Linked DNA regions of Homo sapiens. The protein of the gene in region 1 interacts with the protein of each later gene in a pairwise test. Each region holds a gene or a part of one and is shown on either strand. Other genes may lie near its edges. The genes, in order: ATP6AP2, CD72, ZBTB16, NINJ1, SEC22A, TIMMDC1 and NKG7.

Region 1 (3,500 bases):
AAATAATACTCAGCCTAGCTCATACTACACAATCACTACATTTTCCTTGCTTTCCTTCTACTCTCATTCCTTTGTAATGACAGTGTCTTTTCTCCCTCACAGCTTTTAAGATTTTCCATTTCCTTGATGACTCTTCAATTTCACCGTATGTAGGTGTGGATCTGGCTTTTGCCTACTGGGTGTTCCATATGCTTTAAATCTGAGGAGTTGTTATCTTCTGTTTGTTACTATTTCCAAATACTTTTTATTTTATTTTTAACTGACAAATAGTAACTGTATATATTTATGGGGTACAATGTTATGTTTTGTTATAAGTTTACAAAGTAGACTGATTAAATCAGGCTAATGAACAAATCCATCACCTCACATACTTATATTTTTTTTGTGGTAAAAGTATCTAAAATCTACTCCTTTAGCAATTTTGAAATACACAATGCATTATTATTTAATATAGTCACCATTTTGTGCAATAGATCACTAAAGCATGATCCAGCAAGCCCACTTCTGGGTATATATATCCAAAGCAATTGAAGTCAGTATGCTGAAGAGATATCTGCACTCCCATGTTCACTGCAGCACTATTTACAATTTCTAAGATATGGATGGAAGCAACCTCGGTGTCCATAATCAAACGAATGGATAAAGATAATGTGCAGCTGGGTGCAGTGGCTCACACCTGTAATCCCAGCACTGAGATCCACTGGGAGGCTGAGGTGGGTGGATCACCTGAGCTCAGGAGTTCGAGACCAGCCTGGCCAACATGATGAAACCTCATCTCTACTAAAAATACAAAAAATTAGCTGGGCGTGGTGGCATGCACCTGTAATCCCAGCTACTCAGGAGGCTGAGACACCAGAATCCCTTGAACCCAGGAGGCAGAAGTTGCAGTGAGATGACATTGCGCCACTGCACTCCAACCTGGGCGACAGAGCAAGATTCTGTCTCAAAAAAAAAAGAAAAAAGCAGAAAGAAAATGTGGTATATAAACATAATGGAATACTATACAGCCTTTAAAGCGCGGGAAACTGTCATTTGCAACATGGATAAACCTGGAGGACATTATGTTAAGTGAAGTAAGCCAGGCATAGAAGGACAAATACTACATGACCTCACTTGTAAGTTGAACTCATAGAAGTAGAGTAGAATGATGGTTAGAAGACGCTGGGGGAGACGGGTGGATGGGGAAAGGAGAAATGTTGATCCAAATACCTTTTTTTTTTTCCCAGATGGAGTCTCGCTCTGTCACCCAGGCTGGAGTGCAGTGGCGCAATCCCAGCTCACTGCAACCTCCACCTCCCAGTTTCAAGTAATTCTCGTGCCTCAGCCACTGAGTAGCTGGGACTACAGATGCGTGCCACCACGCCTGGCTAATTTTTGTATTTTCAGTAGAGACAGGGTTTAGCCATGTTGGCCAGGCTGGTCTCGGACTCCTCGCCTCAAGTGATTCACCCGCCTTGGCCTCTCAAAGTGTTGGGATTACAGGCGTGAGCCATGGTGCCGGGCTCCAAATACCCTTTTAAGATATCATTTTATTATTATTTTCAGATTTAACTGCATTGTGGTCAGAGAAGTTAGTTTATATGACACTGATTCTTTATTGTTTGTTGAGATTTGCCTTGTGGACTACTGCACAGTAATTTTTTCTAAGTATGCCATGTGTACTTGGAAATAATCTATACTCGACCACAGGAAAGTCTGAAAAAAAAAAAAATCCCAAAACTTCAGCATCACATAGACCACAGTATTACAATGCAGTGAACTTAGAAATTTAAAAATTAGAAATTACTTTTTTAAAACCCATGCATTTGGAAAAAATACTTCTACATAACTCATGGGTTAAAGAATCACAATATAAATTATGAAATATTTTGAAGTATCAGCTAAAGCACCATGTATCAAAAATGTCTTATAACTCCCTCATAGTTTCTGTTCCTTCCTTTTTTTCACAAATTTTTTCTCTTTCTTTCTTTTTTTTTCCCCCTAGAGATAGGGTCTTGCTATGTTGACCAAGCTGGTCTCAAACTCCTGGCCTCAAGCAATCCTCCCATCTTGGCCTCCCAAAGCTGGGATTACAGGCGTGAGCCACCATGCCTGGCCCTTTTTTTCACAATTTTAATGTATGTATTTTTAGATCTCTTGGAAATTGGCCTATTCTCCGTAGTTCTAAGGAGATGAATTCTGTTTGTTGCACCTGTTTCTCATGGCATTTTTTTTCCTTCAGGTGCTTTGTAAATTCCACTCATCTTCCGTATTTGACCAAAGGAGCCCTTGGCTATGGAGATGTCCCTATGGGGCAGGTCATGTGAATTTGCAAAGAACCACTCTGCACAGCATAAGCCTATAATTCTAATTCTAATTTATCTCAGGGGACTCTTTGGGTCCAACAGCCAAGGGCAGCAAGCCAGCTTTACTAGTTTTACTAGTCTGCTTTTCAAGAACAAGTTGACAGCATTTCTAGTCCCTGGCTTTCTGCAGGAAACACAGTTTCAGCGTCAGCTTCTGCTCACCACTATGGCTTCTGAGTTTTCCATCCATATGTAACACCTGTGTATATCACCCCCTCTTGCATTCAAATTTAGTTATGCTAGTAAAAATGTTTTTTGTGACATTCTTTCAAGCACTTCTATATGCTTATAATGGAAGGAGGGCCTCTTAGATCAGCACAGTCACCCACATTGCCTGAATAGCCAGTGAAGGAGTAAGTGAGCCAGCAAGCAGCCTCCAGTGTCCTTACACACGAAAAGAGGTAAAATCCTGCAGGGAAGATGACAAGACAATGGCCAAAAAAACAGTAGCAGGATACAACCCCAACTGGTTTCTCCTTTAGTGGCTCTCTTTTTCAAGCCTCTGGCTATTCTGAGTGGGGCAATTTCTCTATCTCTTATCTTAAACAGTACTCTCATCCACAGAGAACAGCCAAGCCTCAGTTAATTACAATCATCATGTAATTTTCTTAAAAAGAAATTGTGTTTGTCAAAGAATTTCAAAAGAAACTGTGCATCAAAAACAGATAAGAGAAGTATGTTTAGAATGCAATTCATAATGACAGCTGACAAGGGAAAATGTAAAATGCATCCCTTTAATTTTTTATAATAAATACTCACATTCTCCAAAGGGTACGAAATGACACTGCCTGGGGGTAGAGCCAGTTTGTTCACTCCCTTCACCATCACCATGACGGTAGCCCGAGGACGATGAAACAGGTTACCCACTGCGAGTCCTGGCCAAGAAAGGTCCTAAACATTGAAAAGCACAAAGCGGTGCTTAATTATCAACTCAGGAACCCACCTCCCCAATAACATCTAATAAGCAGAGTTAAGGGGTTCTGAGATGACACTGACAAGGAAAATTCACAGGGAAAGTAAACATTTTATTTGTGGCAGTCGTTGCAATCCCCTAATCAAGAATGCTGATTTCTACCCTCTTCATTTTCTTAAAATTTTACAGATTTGAAATAAAGTCCAATAGTAAGTCATCTGACACCTTTTGTGGAAAAAAGC
Region 2 (2,966 bases), on another chromosome or scaffold:
CTGCCCCGGGCGGCAGCCCTGGAGCGGACAGAACCCTCGCCACCCCCTTCAGCTCCCCGGGAGCCCGATGAGGGGCTGCCCTGTCCTGGCTGCTGCCTCGGCCCCTTCAGCTTTGGCTTCCTGTCCATGTGCCCCCGCCCCACACCAGCTGTTGCCCGCTACCGCAACCTGAACTGTGAGGCGGGCAGTCTCCTCTGCCACCGAGGGCACCACGCCAAGCCACCCACACCCAGCCTGCAGCTGCCTGGGGCACGCTCTTAGCAGTGGAGCCCGTGGTCTCAGGCCTCCAACTTTGGCCTTCAGGACACCCTGTAAGAACAGAGCACACTTGCTGGACAGTGCCAGTTCCAGATGGGCTGACCGGCTCTTCTCCCCGTGTAGGGGAGCCCCAGCATGGACTCAAGGGACAGAGCACTTCCAGTCGACCCCCCGGCTCGCGTTCCCGTGGGGATCACTGAACCAGACACAGCATTGCTGACACATGAGACTAACACGTGCAATTATTTAAAAAGATTTCAATAAAACTGCCTGGCTGGCTCCGGGCCGCCCCTATCCGCTCAGCCCGTGCGCCCTCCTCCCCCACCCCATTCTACCATGGGAAGTTCTTGGGGGGAGGCCAAAGTCCCTTCTAGAGGTGGCTTCACCCTTTTCCCAGGAACAGTCCAGTTTCAGGAAGAGGGAGCAGGCAGCAGACTGGCTGGAAGTGTCAGGTGTGGGTCAGCCGGTGGCTGGGCACTGCCCAGAATGAAGGAGATGGTCTGAGGAACCCCAGGCCTCAGGTTAGGAAGGAGGGGCACAGGTTCTTGTTGGCATGAGTGTCTGGAAAAGTAAAGTATCAGTGAGCTCCATGGTTGACTTAACTGAACCCTCATCCCACTCACCCCATCTCCTCCTCAGCTCTCGACAGCCACACCACCAGCCTCCCATAAGTTGTAGGCCTTACCTGTCCCTCCCTGCCCACCCCACCCTAACAAGCAGACCAAGCAACTGGAGGCTGTGGAGGAACTTTCATCCCAGGTACAAGTTTTCTCTCGGGCCCCTGGGCCCCTGCTCTGAGTCCCTGCTCTGAGTCCCTCTGCCCCTGGACTCCCCATGCCTCAGCCCCATCCCTCACTCTTACCAACTCAGTGCAAAGGACTGTCCTAATCTGGAAACCTGAAAGCTGTCATCTCACAGATGTAGGGAAGAGAACTTCTACATGACTCTGACTCCAGTGTCCACCATGACCAAGTTTTATGTACCTTGTTACATTTTGAGCTTTGAGCATAAGTCCTAAAAAGTAGTAAGGTAGAGCTGGGATATGCTCTGGACATATCCCACCCTCCCTTCTCTCCCCTTCCCCTGTATAAAACCTAAATCCTAACTCACCCTGCCTGCCTAAGGCCACATCTGGGCATGGTTCAGGACAGATGTCTGGAGTTCAACTAAAACAGACTTTAGAACCAGCAGAGGGAAAAATAACTCGAGATCTTAAAGATGGGAAGGCCAGGCTGGGCACGGTGGCTCATGCCTGCAATCCCAGCACTTTGGGAGGCCAAGGCGGGTGGATCACAAGGTCAGGACATCGAGACCATCCTGACTAACACGGTGAAACCCCGTCTCTACTAAAAATACAAAAAATTAGCCGGGCATGGCGGTGTGCGCCTGTAGTCCCAGCTGCTGGGGAGGCTGAGGCAGGAGAATGGTGTGAACCCCTGAGGCGGAGCTTGCAGTGAGCTGAGATTGCACCACTGCACTCCAGTCTGGGCGACAGAGCGAGACTCCATCTCAAAAAAAAAAAAAAGATGGGAAGGCCAATTGAGGAACATAAGGAGGTTGCCACCCTGTTTCAGGGTCCCTAGGGTTGATCCTCAATGGTACCCCACTGCTGTCTTGATCACAGTGAAGTGGAGCTTCGATGGTACCCCCGCTGCTCCCTTGCGTACTTCACTGAGGCAGCTCTAGTGCCCCAAGTGGCCGCTACTGAGAAAGTACAACCTCAGTTTGGGTGGCCTTCTCGAAGGATGGAGAAACGCTGCTGTCATCAGCTGTGGAGCCTTAACTAAATCCTTAATGTCTCCCCCTAAAAGATAGCGTAGGTCCCAACCTAGTAGTTACTGAAACAAAAAAGTATGTGCCAGGGACTTCTAGGTGGAAATAGAATGGAGAATAAGATTGCCCTAAGAAGTTATTAATCAAATAGAGGAAACAGACAAATAGGCAATTACAGTGTTGATTTATGGGAGAGTCCTGAGGGGACCAGGTGGGAAGGAAATCTGATTACCATGTCTTTATGGAGGGGATTATGGAGTTGAAAATACCCAGAAGTCCTAACAAACTTACCTAGTGCGTTGTGTATCATCAGTCAACTTCCAATCCTTGTTAGAGCTGAGGCCAGTCCAATATGAATTCCCTGAACCACCATTTGGCAACAGTGAATTTAAGAAGTAGTAAGAGTGCTGAGGGGAGATTCAGAGAGACCAGAGATACATGGAGAGTGATGAGAAATATGGAAGAAAATGCACACCCTAGGGAGGCCTCAGCTTTGGCAAGGGGGCTGTATATATGACAGCTCTTTGGTAACTTGTCCCTGAATCCATCAAGTGCCACCCTGCAGATGCAGGCTCACTGCTAAATTTGCCTTCCAGCTGAGTAAGAATCTCTGCCAGCCTTTGGAGGGGAGTCATTCTGTGTGCTGTTCTGGCCCCAAGGAACTAATCCCTACAATCCAGCCCACCAGGTGTGGGACCTCTCTGCCTGAGAGGCCACAAGAGTCCAGGAACCTGTCAAGCAGCCCAGGGAGCTGACCAGCAAGCTGAGATGAGATACACATTAAAGTAGAGGCCGGGCGCAGTGGTTCACACCTATAATCCCAGCACTTTGGGAGACTGAAGCAGGTGGATCACCTGAGGCCAGGAGTTAGAGACCAGCCTGACCAATATGGTGAAACCCCGACTCTATTAAAAATACAAAAATTAGCTGGGCGT
Region 3 (2,778 bases), on another chromosome or scaffold:
TGTCCGGTGGTAGGGGTAGCTCCAGGCGGTTTCTGCTCAGCAACCCCAGGGTCAGACAGACCCGGGTCTTGGCCCCAGGAGAACAGGGCTGAAAGGTAACCCTCCCAGTGCCACCCCTGGCAGGCCAGGCCTTGTTTGGCTCCCCAGGTGGGTGGCGGTGGCGCGTGGGGTGATGGCTCCCTGCGACTCCTGGTGATGCTGGAGGCCAGGCCTGATGCTCGGTGTGGGTTTACCCTACCGGAGTGACCCAGCACGACAATCATGGCTGTGTCCCCTGGGTCTTGAGGAGGAGAGGGGTTATTTTGGTCAGAGACAGGCAGTGAGGACGGCCTCAGGCAGAGGTGCTGAAGCACCACGTCTAGGATTGAGTGGCTTTGGTTTTACAGCTAAAGATAGGGCGATGCTTCTATCCCCGATAAGAGGAACGGGGAAAGGGCCAGAGAAGAGGGCTTGGCCCAGACACAGGGAGATGAGACAGGGAGGGAATCGTACCCATTGAGTGTTGTGGAAATCCTTTATTCCGTCCATGACAATGCAGAGCTTGCACGGCCACCTCCCACCCATCCCCTCCCCTGCACAAGGCCACCTGCTCCAATCTCCTTTCTTAACAGCTCTTGGCTGCTACAGACGCAGGCAGGGACCTTTGATTGTGTGGAAGCTTCTTGTTGAGAAATTTCTGAAGCTTGCTTAGCCACTAAGGAGTCAGTTGAAAATGTCTCTCTAAAGACTAAAGAAGACGTGAGACCCCTGCTTTGAGAACTCTGGAGTAAAGGAACCTGGCCTGGTATCAGGAGAGGTGGATGGAGTTCTGACTGCTGCTCACCAGCCGTGCAATCCTGAGCAAGTTATCCTAACACAGCCACGGATTCCGACTCAGCGGCCCGCTAGCATGGTAGCCCCAGGGCGGCCAGGGTTTGTCTGTTTGTCCTTTGCTGTAATTCCCAGCGCCGACAACAGTAACTGGTACATGGTGGTCTTGCTGAATAAGTGAACAAGTGCCTACCTAGCACATTGTACCAAGGATCATACGATATTAACGTATTTAACATTTTTTAACTAAAAAGTATTAGAAAAATGTTATTCAGTGCATCTGTGCCTTGTAAATGTGGCATAAAAGTGACACATAGATAAGTCTAAATATGTGTAATACAGAGCTTTCTTTTTCCCAGTCCCCACACAAAAATCTTAATTCCTCTACCATGTTCCCCACACAAGAAAAGGCAAAAAAAACAAAAAAAAAAAACAAAACAAAACCAAGTACTTCAATAAAAAGGTGGGACGCTTCAAGCGAGAGACAACTGAATTAACTTTATTCTCTTCTAACTGCAGATTCAAGGTATACAACTGAACATTGCTATTTTTCTTATGAGACTTATAAATAAAAATACAAAAAATGTTCACTACAAAAAAATCTACTGTTAGTAGGATGTAAAAAATATTCTCTTTGCTATAGAAGGCACAAACTTCACTTAGTGACACATGGAGAGAGAAAAAAACCTGCAGCAGTAAATTCATTTTTTCTTTTTTTTTCCTTTTTTTTTTTTTTTAAATCTTGTCAGAAACACTGAAATTACAAAGAAACGCGTCAATCTACACGAAACGAAGGCAGATGCGGAAAGCTGCAACCAGGACTGCACAACTTCGAGTGAAACTGCTTCGGAACTAGAACAGATAAGGAGCGGCAAGCACAACTCGGGGAAGTGGGCTGGGGAGGGGGCAGCAGGAGGCAGGAGAGAGGGAGAGAGAATGGAGTGGACAGAAATGAGACGGGGAGCCAGAGGGAGGAGGGGAGGGCGGGAGAGGGAGATGGAGAGGGCAAGGGTGAGAGGTGGGGAGGAGAGAAAGAGAGAAAGAGATTGATTTGTACAAAAAAGTAACCAGTAAAATTGAAGAAACAAAATTGGGCAACCTCCTAAAATTAGGCTAAGAGGAGGTGCTGAGGTAGACATTAACTAGAACATTGATGAATTAAAAACACTATTCTGTAATACAGAGCAATCCGACTGGCACTTGTGCTATCACGACATAAGACAAGCCACAAAAACAAACAAATAACAAAACGAAACATAATACCCAAACCAAAAGGCTTAGTTTTGCTTGGTCCAGCAGGGCAGCAGGGCCCTCAGTGCTATAATTTACATACATATATATATATATTTATCTTTATATATACGGGTTGGATGTCATGGTGCACCACCACGGCTTCTTAACCTTACGAAGATCATGCATAACACTATGTGAACAAATCCTATGATACACACCAGGAGGCTGGTACCCTGTCTGCGAAGTTGGATGCCAAGGGCCCGGGGAGGCCGCAGCTGCTGGCTAACCGGCCTGCAGGGCCTGCACCCCTCTTTCTCCCCACCCTTTTCCCCTGACCCAACCTCTCTGGTTTGTCCTGCACCCCTCTCCTGGCCATCTCTGCCTTTTTCCTCTCCCCATCTGTCCCACCGCGTAGGGTGAGTCTCGCCTTTCATCCTCCCACTGAAATATCCAGGTAAGTGCCACCATTACAGCCAAGCCGGCAGAGGCTCCAGGAAGGAGGAGGTATGATGGGAGGGGGAAAGATGACCACAGGATGGGCCTAGGAAAAGTGAATGAACAGAGTCTCATCTTCTGCTTTTCTGTCTCACATCCTGGTGCGCCCCCAGTTTTCACCCTAGCTCGGCTTGCCGGGAAGCAGGCCCAGAAACTACCCTGACCCTGCCAGCCGTCATGGACAGAGTCGAAAGGCTGCCCCACCTCTGCTCTCTCCCCTATAGGGAGGTAAGCTCAATG
Region 4 (3,500 bases), on another chromosome or scaffold:
TTGGAGGCAGCTGTGAGAACCCACTGCTGGCAGCCAACCTCCTGGGGCCCTCTCTGGGAGATCCTGTTTCCAGACTCATGAAAGATGCAGGCCGGGAGGCCGGGGTGCCGCAGGGCCACAGGGAGGGGCGGACATGGTATCCATCCAGGCCTCGACTTTCTGCAGGCTGGAAAAATACACGAGGCAGCCAATACAGAACCAGCAGAGGGCAGGGGCCTTGCTTTCATGCTGCGTGTTTTTCAGTTTCATCTAAAATTATGTGCCCAGGAGGAAGAGAGTGGGCGTCAGGGGACACTGGTGGGCTCTGCTGCTTACACCTGGGCCTGGGAATTCCAACAACCTGCCTTCAGCATCAGCTGCTCTCTAAGTAGCAAGTTCACGTGGACACATGTGCGCACAGGGACAGCCGCCTTTACCTGGGCCACCCAGCAGCGCTGTCCCTGGGGCCCTGGTGTGCTCTCGGGTCACTCCATGCATACCCCGAAGCCTCTATGGGGTGTCTACTTTGCCTCTCCCACCCTGGGCCTGACGCTGCACTCCCTGGGATTCCCCCAGGCCCCAGCACAGCCAGGGCACTCACCAAGTGAGAGGCTGTGTTCCTCTCCCATTCTACAGACCAGCAGATTGCAGCTTGGAGGAGGTTTGCCCAGAGCCACCTCCCAGGACTGTGTGTCCCTGTCCCACCACTGTCCACTTAGGGGCTTCCTCCCAGGCTGCCCAGGGTCTGGGTGAGGACAGCCCGGACACAAGGGCCTGTGCCTGGCACTGAGGTCGTCTCCAGTTCTGCTCTTGCGAAGCTGCCCAGTGGGCCACACCCCATCACACGTGTGCTCCGCAAGGTGCAGTGTCCCAGGGGCTGCTGGCCACAGTGGGCATGTGCTCCTAAGTTTCACAAACCTCAAGTGCCAAAGTGCCTTCCTTCAAGGCCACCCTTATGCTCATTCGGGTCTCCATCCCAGGACTTGGTGCTGGGAGAAGGCCAAGTGCAGACCCCGTGAGGATTTCCACCTTCTGGGGGCATCTACACATATATGTGCGTGTTCCTAGTCACAAAAGCACAGAAACACACATCCCCCAGAAAGACACACATAGACGTGAGACACACATGTGCACACAATACGCACACACAAATACACATGCACATACATACATATGCACACGTACATAAACAGACACACAAGCCCAGGCTAACTGTGTTGGCCTCTGGGCAGGAGGAAGAATTCCCTTTTTTTCTGAGCTCTGCAGAACCATTTAAATATTTCACAGCCATGCAGTCACGAGGAACACTCAGATCCATTAAAAAGCACCATCCGCGCAGAGCCTCCAGCTCCCCAAGCCTCAGCTCTCAGCACCCCCAGCCACGAGGAGCCTGTGCCCCTGCTGTCCTCATGCCCACTTAAGGTGGGTAAACTGAAGCCCAGCAAAGGCGGTTCCTTACCCAAAGCCACATAGCAAGTGAGGGCTTGGCTAGGATTTGAACCCAGGCCCCGGGGCTCAGAAGCTCTGGTAGCTGATGCCATTGTCCCTTAGGGGCTGAACTCTCAATGGCTCCCTGCTTCAGGCTCCAGCTGTGTCCGGACAACTAGCCCCACTTTGTGCCTCAGTCTTCCATGTGTACCACGAGGCTGTGGAGCAGATGCCCCAGGATGGCCTCTGAGCCCCGAGTGGCCAGCAAATGCCCTGACCATGCACCCCTGCTGGTGAAGGGCACTTCCAGCCCATCCGGCCATCTGCTTCCTGTCCAACCTGCAGCTAGGGAAGCTTCTGCATGCAGGTCAAGCCCTGGCTCACCACAGCCCAGCCCGTGGCCCTGACGCAAGCTCCCCCTCCGTTGGCCTCAGTCTCCCCCTCCGTATATCTAGGGTTGCACCTGGGAAACTCCTGCTTACCAAGGGAGAGGCTGTGTTCCTCTCCCATTCTACAGACCAGCAGATTGCAGCTCAGAGGAGGTTTTCCCAGAGCCATCTCCCAGGACTGTGTGTCCCAAAGCATAGGGCTGCCCCAGGATACAGCATAGCTGGCAACCACCCCAGGCAGCAGGCCACATTGGGAGCATCATGTGGAGGGGAGGGCAGCAGGGACAGTCTGCTTCCCTGTCCCTAACCTTGGTACTCTGGGCCTTGGAGCCCTGAGCTGACCACCACACAGGAGGGTCCCAGGGAGGACGATCCCACTCTCCCCCAGTCCTGGGCACTTGCCTCTATCTTGGGATGGGCCTGAGGGTGGCCGGGGGACCCAGCTACCACAGGTGAGGGAGCCCTGTGGTCCTGACCAGCCAGCAGGAGCTGCCAGGAGCTAAGCCCTGCTGAGACCAGTGCCCATGGCTTGGGCAGGGCAGGGAATAAACACCCTGGTTAATAGATTCCCAGAACCTCAGCAGCACTCGGGGCCTGGGGCCAGGCCAGATATATTTCCTCTGAAAGCTAGGAGGGAGGCTTGGTGAGGAGGTCAGCTCTGTGTAGGGGCGTGGCTGGCTCCTCATGCAACCTTCTGTGGACGGTCGGCCTCCCCACTGCAGGCTGCACATGTTGGGGCTGGGCCACACGGTCGGTCCTAGGGCCACTTCAGTGAGCATCCTCAGCTCAGGCAGGAGGGGCTGGCACAGAAGTGGGATATGAACCAGGCTTGCTGCATCCACCGGCCTGGCTCTGGCCATAGCATAATGGGTGTTCTGGCTCACCCAGGGCTTGGATGGGAGGAGACAGGGTCGGGGCTGTGGGCCCACAAATGTGGTGATGCATATCAGTCGCCCTTTCCAGGGGCCTGTGAGGAGTAGGGCTGGAAGCTGCCACAGCACCTCCTTTACCCCCCGAGTCCTGCCTCAACACTGACCACTCTATGCCTCAGTTTCCTCATTTGTAAAATGGGTAGACAAGGATGTGGAGGGGACTGAATGGGGTGGTCTCAGATGCCCCGTGGCTGGTGGAGCGCATGGCAGTGGGTGGCAGGGCTGTTTTCCTTGATGCCTGGCTCTCACTGTTTTGAAAGACTCTGCCTCCCCGACCAACTCCACTGACTCAAAAGCAGCTGAACAGGCTCACAAAACAGTCACACAGCAAAGAAAGGACAGCCTGGGGCACAGGTTCTCCTGTGCTGAGCAGGACCCAGGGGGACAACAGGGACGAGGTGCCTGCCCTGGGTGCCTGGGGGGTCCCAGTCTACACCTTGGCTGCTCGCAGCCTGTCCTGCTCACTGGCCCTAACCCTTGGACTCAGCAGGCATTGGCAGATGGTGGGGCGACCTGAAAATCAGGCACCCCTCTTCTACCCCACCATATGCTAGGACCTGCCTGGGGCTTCCGGCATCCCTTGTCTGACCCACCAGTGTGGGCATGAGCTGCTGTGCCCATTCCCCAGATGCCACACAGACAGGCAGGGCCTGGCACTGGAGCCCTGCACCGTCTCCTACCGGCCAGCCCAGGAAGCAGGCCCTGAGAGGGTCTCCCAGCTCCATGTCTGTGTTCCTGGCAGGAAACCCCAGCAAGACAGCAGGAAGTGCTG
Region 5 (3,500 bases), on another chromosome or scaffold:
TGGGACTATGTCACGCCTGGCTAATTTTTTAGTTTTTTGTAGAGACAGGGTCTCCCCATGTTGCCCATGCTGATCTCAAACTCCTGGGCTCAAGTGATCTGCCTGCCTCGGCCTCTCAAAGTGCTGAGATTACAGGTGTGAGCCACTGTGCTTGGCCTAAAACCTCAAGTTAAATAATTAAAGTGGGCCAGGTGCAGTGGCTCATGTCTGTAATCCCAGTACTTTGGGAGGCCAAGCAGGAGGATCACTTGAGCCCAGGTGTTTGAGGTCAACCTAGGCAACATGGTGAGACCTCATCCCTACTAAAAATAAAAAAATTAGCTGGGTGTGGTGGTGTGCACCTGTAGTCCCAGCTACTCAAGAGGCTGAAGTGGGAGGATCACTTGAGTCCAAGAGGTTGAGGCTCAGTGAGCTGTCATCATGCCACTGCATTCCAGCCTAGGTAACAGAGCAAGCCCCAGTGTCTTAAAAAAATGATCAAAATGGAGCTTCATTATCTTTCTCTTCTGCCTCACACCTCATAAACAGTCTGTTCCAAAGATCTCATTTCTGGCAATGACACCAACATTCTGTCCAATTCCAAGGCTTCAGTCATCTTTGCCCCTTCCTTCTTTTCATCTCTGGTATTCCATCCTATCCAGCTTGGTCACTTCTTTTGAAGTGATCCAACTTCAAAGTGATCCCCAATCAAACTATTTCTCATTATCATTCTAGTTCTTTTGGTGTTCTAATTTTCATTTGCACGTTTATTTTCTTACTTCAGGCCCTAATAAGTTGGCCTCTCTGCCTTATCTCTCTCCTCTTGGACTGTCCACTCACCCTAAGTTCCACTGTCTCAGGATTGTTTTTATCAAGTCACTTCCCTTGAACCTGCAGCACAGCTTCCTATAACATATTACATCAAAGTCACGTCCTTCAATCTGAACTTTCAGGGCGATCCAGGATCTGGCCCCACAATGATTATCACGCATGTCTCACAACTATCCATAAATCACCATCCACTGACCCAGGATAAGCATGTTAATACACCTACCATGCTAAGTCACATTCTTTGCTTATTCTGCCTCTCCTCCGTACACCTGGAATGCCCTCCTCCCTGCCTTAGCCAACTCTTATTAATTCTTCAGGACATGGCTCATGTCTCATCTCAACAACGAAGCCCTCTGCTTATTATATCCTATATGGACTGTGTTTTTACCTTATTTCCTTCTGTATGCATAATCAATATCCAGCTTGATATCAGACATTAATTGTTCTCTAATTGTTTCACGTCTAAGCTTTCCAAGGTGGTCTCATCCATTCCCATGGTTTTAATCACAAACTGTAAGCTGACTTCCAAATCTAAATGTCTATACTTGTCCTCTTCACTAAGCTTCAGACTCATATATCCAGCTGCTTACCTAGCAGTGCCCCTTGGATGTCTAATGGGCATCTCAGATTTAACATGTCCAAACAGAACTCTTACTTTTTACCAAGGAGACGCACTTATCCTCTCCTTTCTTGCTCATTTCAGCTACATTATTCATCCAGTTCCTCAGGCCAAAAAACTACAGGTGATTATTCTTCTTTTACCTTCACATCCTATTTCAATCCAGTAGGAAGATTTGCTGGTATTAATCCCAAAATATAGCCCCAATCTAACTACTTCTATTCATTACTACCCTAGCTCGTTACAATCAGCACCTCCACCTGAACTTCTCTGAGTCTTCCATCTGACCTCTCTGCTTCCACTTCCTCCTTTATTCTTCACAGTGCAGGCAGAATGATCTACTCTAAGCCAAATGAAATCATGTAACTCTATAGCTTAAAACTACCCAATGGCTTCCTACTGCATTAGACTAAACAGACTAATAGACTCCAAACTCACTACATAACTTGCCCCATTCCTACCTTTCTGGCCTCACTTTCTGCAACTCTATTAATTGTCCATAATTCTTCAGGATCACTGGTTTTCTTTCTGTCTCTTGGCATGTAAAAAAGGGCTTCTCCACTGGCTGCTACCTCTGCCTTGCTCTTCATCCACAGCATCCTTCATATAATTACCTCCTCTCTCATCTTTTAGGTCTCTGCTCAAATGTCACCCTCTCAGAGAGTGTCTTGACCACAATAAATAGTCACTCTCTATCCCATTGCCCAGTTTTACTTGATTTGTATGTGACTCAGTGATAAGTGCTACCCCCTCCCACTAGACGTAAGTTGCTTCAGTTCTTTGAGGGCAGATATCAGGTAAAAAATTTTTATTTCCAATTATAGTTTGCTTACTACAACCCTAGGTATGTAAGAATGCAAATAAATATTTAGTGATCAACTTAAAAGAGGGATATCTATGATCTGCACAACTATAAAATTTCCCAGAGCCAGATACAAAGAAACTACAAAAAGGCTGCTGCTGACATGATGACTATTTAGTATAAGTTCAGAACAATATGATGCTCGACTTGAACAGGTTTTCCTAATCACTCCTTTCTATTGCAACCACTTAAACTTCATTAAAATGACAACTACTGGGCAAATGAGTCAAATGAAGCAAACTGAAGTCTTACTTAATGTTATAATGTCCAGTTTTCAGTGTACATCTATCAGGAAGTTGAGCAAGTTTCCTCGAAAGCATTTTAAAATACTTTCTGCACTCCTGCATTCCTGTGCTTTGTTCATAATCAGTAGAAGCAGAAAGTGGCAGTCCATCTCTGACACGAATGACTGAGGCAGATAAAATCATAGACATTTCAACCAACAGAGAAGACCTAAAACAAAATGAACAATTTGGGTTACATAAAAATTAAAGCCAAACTTGATAAGCATATGTAAAAATGTTCAACTTACTAGTAATATAAGAATAGTAATTAAAATGGCCAGGTGTGGTGGCTCACACCTGTAATCCCAGCACTTTGGGTGGCTGAGGAGGGTGGATCACAAGATCAGGAGTTTGAGACCAGCCTGGCCAACATGATGAAACCCCTTCTCTACTAAAAATACAAAAATTAGCCAGGCGTGGTGGTGCACACCTGTAATCCCAGCTACTCAGGAGGCCGAGGCAGGAGAATTGCTTGAACCCGGGAGGCAGAGGTTGCAGTGAGCCGAAATCGCGTCACTGAGCTCCAGCCTGGGCGACAGAGTGAGACTCCGTCTCAGGAGGAAAAAAAAAACAAAAAACTAATTAAAACAACATACTATGCTTCACTTAACATATAGCTTTTGTTTTTTGTTTTTTGTTTTTTTTTTTGAGACAGCATCTTGCTCTGTCACCCAGGCTGGAGTGCAGTGGCGCCATCTTGGCTGACTGCAACATCCCCCATCCAGGGTTCAAGCAATTCTCATGCCTCAGCCTGGGTTCCCATGCCACAGCATAGGATGTGGCTGGGACTATAGGCGCCTGCCACAGTGCTGGGATTACAGGCATGAGCCACCACACCCAGCCACATTAGCTTTTTAAAAAATAATACTTCTGTCTGGCATTCTCATAAGTACAGATGGAAGTAAAAACTGGTACAAACAGTTCT
Region 6 (3,500 bases), on another chromosome or scaffold:
ATCTTACATGGCAAAATTGATTTCAGAAATGTAATTAAGGTTACTAATTAGTTGAATCTGAGATAATGAAAAAGGAGATGGCTATCTGAGTGAACACTCAAAAGCAGAGTTTTCCCTGGCTGGTGGCAGAGTAGAAGTTAAAGATTTGAAGTATGAGAAGGGGTTAATGTGCTGTAGCTGGTTTAAACACAAAGGGGCCCTAGGAGAAGAAATGTGGGTGGCCTCCAGGAACAGAGAATAGTCTGGCTGACAGCCTGCAAGGAAAACAGGGACCTCAGACCTCAAGGCACAAGGAAGTAAATTCTTTTTTAGTTTTTCCTCTTTTTTTTTTTTTTTTTGAGATGGAGTCTTACTCTGTTGCCCAGGCTGGAGTGCAATGGTGCGATCTTGGCTCACTGCAACCTCTGCCTCTGCCTAGGTGAAGGGTATATGGGGTTCAAGCAATCCTCCTGCCTCAGCCTCCCGAGTATCTGTGATTACAGGCGCTTGCCACCACACCTGGCTAATTTTTGTATTTTTAGTAGAGACAGCATTTCACCATGTTGGCCAGGCTGGTCTCAAACTCCTGATCACAAGTGATCTACCTGCCTCGGCCTCCCAAACTGCTGGTTTTACAGGTGTGAGCCACTGTGCCTGGCCACAAGGAACTAAATTCTGTCAACAACCTGAATGAGCTTGGAAACAGATTCTTCCCCAGAGCCTCCAGGTAAGAGCCTAGCCCGGCCAAGACCTTGACTTTGGCCTTGTAAAATCTTGAGCAGGGAAACCCAGCCAGATTTATAATCTACAGAACTACAAGGGTGTTGTTTCACATGCAATACATGCTCAGTTTGTGGTAATTTGTTGCACAGCAGAAAACCAATATATCAAGTAATTAAAGTTAATATTACTTATAATGGGTGACAGAATATCTCCTGATGTGATACATGAGGATACAACTTCACCTATGTTGTATTCCTGACAAAAATACATTAATCTAATCATGATGGGATGATCAAACAAAATGGAGAAACATGTGGGCATTAGTATGATAACTGAGGAGTTTTTAATATAGACCCTAACTTAGATAGTTGTGTTGAAACAATGTTTACTGTGATAATTGTATTATGATTTCATGGAAGAGTATTCTTCATCCTGGGAGATACATGCTGATATATATGGGGGTGAAGTATCATGAGGTCTCAAACAGTTTAGCCAAGAAGCAAACGGAAAGAAAAAGAAATATATTCACATCCCACACATATACATAGATATGGAAAATATCACCAAGGCGTTAACAACTGGTGAATCTAGGTGAAGGGTATATGGGGTTTCAATGTACTAATTCATTCAACTTTTCTGTAGGTTTGAAATTGTTCAAAGTAAAAAATTGAGGAAGAACATTTTTTAAAAATGTATTAAGCAAAACAAACAAAATCCTAACAATTTTTACAGAATATGCTTGTTAACTGTTTTTTGTTCTTTTTTCCCTGCTCCCATAAATACCTGTGTTCGAACTATAGTTTCAGGTGTTAGCAATATTTAAACAGTTTTAGCTGGTAAAAAGGCATTTTGAATAAGGGCCCTATCTTAGATAGTTGTATTGAGTCAATGTTATTTATTGTAATAACTACTAAGTAAAAGAAACTATAAATAAAAACTGTAAATAAGATAAACTATTGGGGTAGAATTAGAATGGACAGTCAAAGCTACTGCCAATGCAAGACTAGAGATCTTTTATAGATTCTAAGGATTAAATTTGTTCTTTGAAAATAAATGAGACTTTTTAATAGGCAAGGTATTAATGAAAATTGTGCCAATTTAGAACCAAACCATGTTAATGCTTACCCCAGCAAGGCTCCAATTATGCCACCAGCCACCAGGCCACGCAGGCCTACGTTTATCCTAAAAAGACTTCCCGTGACAGCTATTTAAAAACAAGAAAGGCAATATTAAATCATCTTTAAAACTAGAATCCTATTTTAAAACTTTCCTTCTACAAAAAGGAAATCCCTAAGTGAGCTTTCTGAATCCAATGTTAATATACTACTACAGCCTATACTTCCTGAATCTAAAATGCCAACACAGGTAGCTTCCCATCCACTCTGCAGATTCAAAGGAAGACACATCCCTTCTACAAAAGTAAATCTTCAATATGTTCTATGGATCCATTCATTCTGCTTCATTTTTGCCCATCTCTCCTTAAAAATCTGAAAATGTTTTTCCCCTTCTCTTTCTTTCTTCTTTCTTCAAGGAAAATAAAAAAGCAAAAAACCTTCACTAGCCCCTCCAGTTTATGCCTTCCCCTAGACTCACTCTCTCTGTACTGCTACATGGCACCACTCAGGCAGGGTGACAAGCAAGCAGCATTTGGCCTACAATGCTACCTGGTGACCAGTGCACAGAAAGACTTCTTTCCTTTCTGCTGGGACTGTGCATCAATCATGCTCATTCATTTTCCTTTCACTATGCACAATGCAACTAATGCCATCTAAGGTGGTAACACTTTTTAAATAATAACATTTGAAGCCAGGTGCAATGGCTCACACCTGTAATCCCAACACTTTGGGAGGCCAAGGCAGGCGGATCACTTGAGGTCAGGAGTTCTAAGTCAGCCTGGACAACATGGCAAAACCCTGCCTCTACTAAAGATACAAAAATTAGCTGGGTATTGTGGTGCACGCCTGTAATCCCAGCTACTCAGGAGGCGGAGGCACAAGAATTGTTTGAACCCCAGAGGCGGAGGCTGCAGTGAGCAGATATCACACTCCTGCACTCTAGCCTCAGCGGAAGAATGAGACTGTCTCAAAAAACAAAATAAATAACAGTTGAGGTTTATATTTTTAAGTACTATATATTCATTTTTAAAATTTTCAAAATTAACAAGAATCAAAATCACCTTTAATCCCATTACCCAGAGTCAGTAATAAGTTAGTCTTTTTTTCTGATCCTCCAAACAAAATAAAACAAAAAACAAAAACAACAACTGGGGCCGGGCACGGTGGCTCACACCTGTAATCCCAGCACTTTAGGAGGCCGAGACGGGTGGATCACGAAAGTCAGGAATTCAAGACCAGCCTGGCCAAGATGCTGAAACCCCGTCTCTACTAAAAATACAAAAATTAGCCGGGCATGGCGGCACACACCTGTAATCCTAGCTACTCAGGAGGCTGAGGCAGGAGAATCACTTGAACCCAGGCGGCAGAGGTTGCAGTGAGCCGAGATCGCGTCACTGCACTCTTGCCTGGACAAAAGAGCAAGACTCTGTCTAAAAAAACAAAATAAAACAAAAACACAAAAACTGGGGCCATGGTGTACATACTAAATTTTTTATTTTCACAGAACATATTATTAAATTCTGTATCACTGAGTTTTCTCCCACCTAGTTCCATTGCATGGAGGTACCACAAATTTTTGTCTAACACTTAGATTTTCTATTTATAGATATTTTAAATAAAGGTATGATGATAATCCCTCCACAAATAATCTTTTTATACATTTGATTGTTTCCTTAGGACAAA
Region 7 (2,854 bases), on another chromosome or scaffold:
CGTCTCCATCCCTCCACAATATGGTCAGTCTTTTTCCGGCATTCTCCCTGCACTGGGACTGCTGTCTGGCCTGTATTAACTGCTTCTGGTCTGTAAGTGCCTCCTCCCCACCACCCCACAGACTGAGCCCCTGCTGGGCAGGGCCTGGGTCTGACCCGTGCCAGTGTCCCCAGCATGGGGAAATGTGCAAAGAGAACTGACTGAGTGCAAGGAAGGGCTGAGTTCTGGCAAGGGGGACAAAATCAGAGAGGGAGAGAGAAGGAAAGAGAGCCAGCTAAAGGGAGAAAGACACAGGGAGGAAGAAAAGTGCTGGAGAAGGGGAGACATAGACACGGGTTGGAGCCTGTGTCCACACGGGCCGGGCACTCGTACTGGGCAGGAGCGCCCTGCAGGCTGGTCGGCCTGGTGGGCCCTCACCTTCCCTTGGTGCCCAGCTCCTACCATGGAGCTGGCAGACAGTTGGCTTATGTCTTGGCAGAATTAATCTCAAAATAACCAGATTCCAGCCAAATTTTGTTGAATGAATGAAGAAACAAGAGGAGGGGCTGGGGAAGGGCTGGAAGGGCGGGCAGATGTGGGACCAGACTTTCCCGAGGCTCCAGATGAGGCCTTTGGAATACAACGCTCAAAACTCATCTTGCCGCTCTTGCCTTCTGCTCACAAGGTTTCATAGCCAGGACGGGGACCGCCACAGTGAGCACCCAGGCTCAGGGCACCTGGGGAGCCAGAAAGAGTTTAAGCACTTGCCCCTGCCCTCTGTCCTCAGGGACCCCAACTGGACCCTCCCAAAGCTCCCCAGGGCAGTGGGCAGGATAGTCACCTGTACAGAGCAAGAGGATAGCTGAGACCCAGCCCAGGTAGAAGGACCAGGAGAAGAAGGTCTGGATCTGGGGGTGTGGAGGCTGGTCCCACCGCTCGCTGGTGTACACCGCCATGGCCACCACCATGGAGATGGCTGGGGACAAGGACAAGAGAGATGGCTCAGCTCCTCGGCAGGAATTCGCTGGCTCGCGATGCCCCAGTCCAGTCCAGAGTCCTTACCTGCAGCAAAGGCTGCGGTGGTTGAGACAAGCGGGCCGTGGCCTGGGGGGAACAGTGAGGGGAAGCAGGACAGGACCAGGAAGCTCACGGACACCAGGGCCCACAGAACAGCCATAATGCTGAAGGTCTGCGTCACGTGGATGTAGCCTGATCGGGAGAAGACCACTGAGCACCCATCCCCGCTGGCAACCCCTCTGTAGGACACCCATTCCCCTTACCTGATATGATGTCCCCATGCCCTGTTGGCCAGAGGCCCGAGTGAGCTGAGTGGGTGGGACCCACAGCCTCAAACCAGAAATCGGTGCTCAAAGCAATCAGGCAGAACATCAGGCCCAGGGAGCCCCCCAGCAGGGCCAGGGACCGGCAGAGCTCCATGGGGATAAGCTCAGGGCTTCTGGGTCCTGGAGGAGGAAGAGGCTGCTGATCAGACTCTTGAATCTCAGAGAGAAGGAGGCTGTGCACCCAGACTCCTGGGTCCTTAGAGCCCAAGAAAGAGAGAACAGCAAGCAGTTGGGGCAGTGAGGGGTCCTGCGCTTTGTCACATGAGGCTGGTTTGGTTTCACACAGTTCCCGGTAGCTTTTCACATACCCTCCCTTCCTGGATTGCACAGGCAACGTCCTCCCTCCCCTCCCTGGGGTCCAGTTCCCCGCTTAGTGTGTGATGGGGGAGGGCACTGAGGGTGTCAGATCATCAGTGGTTTGGGCGGTGGTTTAGTACTTGCCTCTGTCACAGATTCTACAACTCCCACCCATGGAACCTTCAACACCAAGTCGGGGCTTCCTGGAAGAGGTGAGAGAGAGAGGCTTGGGGGCCCTGAGGTGGGAGGAAGCCAATCAGGCTAGGGTGTACATTAAGGGGGAGGGCAGATGTGGCTGGAGGGGACAGCTGGGGATGTGTCATGCTTTCCTGTGGGTTATGCAGTCTTCCATTCTGGGAGAGGAAGTCCCCAAGTCTAGGGTCTCTACTGAAGGAGGGGACTTGGGAGTTAGAACTCCTGGGGCTTAAGGAGGAAGGAGCTGGGGGCCTGAACTCCAGGTCCTGAGGGAGGAAGAGGCGGGCAGGAGCTCAGAATCCTGGGCCCCAGTTTGGAGCATATGCCAAGGGCAGGCAAACAGCAGAGAATCACAATTCTGAAAGGTTTGCAGAGAGTCAGACATACCCACATCCTCATCTGATTAATGAGTTCAGTGGCATCCCTGCTTGGGTGGGGGCTCCAGCCTGGTGGCCTTTATCACCAGGATCGGGGGGCCTAGGGGGTGTTGGGGGACATAAGGATTTTGGTTTAGGGTTCTCCAGCCCCCCAAACGCTAGCCTCTTCCATCCACACCATCAGGTCCTGGCAACACCTCATCTACGAGCAGGTATAAGGTGACGGTACCACAGCCCAGGTAGAAGGCCCAGGAAAACTTGACCTCTGTGAAACGGTGATATGGTTAGGGTTTGTGTCCCTACCCAAATCGCACCTTGAATTGTGTCCCCATAATCCTCACGTGTCTAGGTAGAGACCAGGTGGAGGTAATTGAATCATGGGGCCGGCTTCCCCCATGCTGTTCTTGTGATAGTGAGTGAGTTTTCACAAGATATGGTGTTTTTTTAAGGGGCTCTTCCTGCCTTCGCTTGGCCTTCTTCCTGCCACTCTGTGAAGACAGTGGCTTGCTTCCCCTTCACCTTCCACCATGATTGTAAGTTTCCTGAGGCCTCCCCAGCCATGCTGAACTGTGAATCAAATAAACCTCTTTCCTTTATAAATTACCCAGTCTCAGGCATTTGTTGTTGTTGTTGTTGTTGTTTGAGACAGAGTCTCACTCTTGT

The links.
Region 2: the proteins of ATP6AP2 (region 1) and CD72 interact in binary tests that used the Homo sapiens proteins (3 or more experiments, as listed by UniProt).
Region 3: the proteins of ATP6AP2 (region 1) and ZBTB16 interact in a two-hybrid assay, tested with the Homo sapiens proteins (one study listed by BioGRID).
Region 4: the proteins of ATP6AP2 (region 1) and NINJ1 interact in a two-hybrid assay, tested with the Homo sapiens proteins (one large-scale study listed by BioGRID).
Region 5: the proteins of ATP6AP2 (region 1) and SEC22A interact in binary tests that used the Homo sapiens proteins (3 or more experiments, as listed by UniProt).
Region 6: the proteins of ATP6AP2 (region 1) and TIMMDC1 interact in binary tests that used the Homo sapiens proteins (3 or more experiments, as listed by UniProt).
Region 7: the proteins of ATP6AP2 (region 1) and NKG7 interact in binary tests that used the Homo sapiens proteins (3 or more experiments, as listed by UniProt).

The regions. Positions count from the first base shown.
Region 1 is NC_000023.11:40,590,970-40,594,469, reverse strand, and holds part of ATP6AP2 (renin receptor precursor), read right to left. Parts: intron 3,237-3,500; coding exon 3,105-3,236; intron 1-3,104. UniProt on the Homo sapiens protein: Multifunctional protein which functions as a renin, prorenin cellular receptor and is involved in the assembly of the lysosomal proton-transporting V-type ATPase (V-ATPase) and the acidification of the endo-lysosomal system.
Region 2 is NC_000009.12:35,609,482-35,612,447, forward strand, and holds the end of CD72 (B-cell differentiation antigen CD72), read right to left. Parts: intron 2,439-2,966; coding exon 2,323-2,438; intron 1,273-2,322; coding exon 1,143-1,272; 3' UTR 1,121-1,142; intron 820-1,120; coding exon of another isoform or gene 669-819; 3' UTR 501-668; downstream 1-500. Other genes in the region: TESK1 (dual specificity testis-specific protein kinase 1), read left to right, coding at 1-261. UniProt on the Homo sapiens protein: Co-receptor of B cell receptor (BCR) that plays both positive and negative roles on B-cell functions. Recognizes the Sm/ribonucleoprotein (RNP) self-antigen ligand, and coligation of CD72 and BCR inhibits BCR signaling.
Region 3 is NC_000011.10:114,254,488-114,257,265, reverse strand, and holds the end of ZBTB16 (zinc finger and BTB domain-containing protein 16), read right to left. Parts: 3' UTR 501-2,778; downstream 1-500. UniProt on the Homo sapiens protein: Acts as a transcriptional repressor. Transcriptional repression may be mediated through recruitment of histone deacetylases to target promoters. May play a role in myeloid maturation and in the development and/or maintenance of other differentiated tissues.
Region 4 is NC_000009.12:93,127,752-93,131,251, forward strand, and holds part of NINJ1 (ninjurin-1), read right to left. Parts: intron 1-3,500.
Region 5 is NC_000003.12:123,208,443-123,211,942, reverse strand, and holds part of SEC22A (vesicle-trafficking protein SEC22a), read right to left. Parts: intron 3,123-3,500; exon of another isoform or gene 3,006-3,122; intron 2,745-3,005; 5' UTR 2,726-2,744; coding exon 2,544-2,725; intron 1-2,543. UniProt on the Homo sapiens protein: May be involved in vesicle transport between the ER and the Golgi complex.
Region 6 is NC_000003.12:119,512,047-119,515,546, reverse strand, and holds part of TIMMDC1 (complex I assembly factor TIMMDC1, mitochondrial isoform 1 precursor), read right to left. Parts: intron 1,907-3,500; coding exon 1,828-1,906; intron 1-1,827.
Region 7 is NC_000019.10:51,371,120-51,373,973, forward strand, and holds NKG7 (protein NKG7), read right to left. Parts: upstream 1,536-2,854; 5' UTR 1,417-1,535; coding exon 1,260-1,416; exon of another isoform or gene 1,189-1,259; coding exon 1,042-1,188; coding exon of another isoform or gene 956-1,041; coding exon 821-955; intron 717-820; coding exon 658-716; 3' UTR 501-657; downstream 1-500.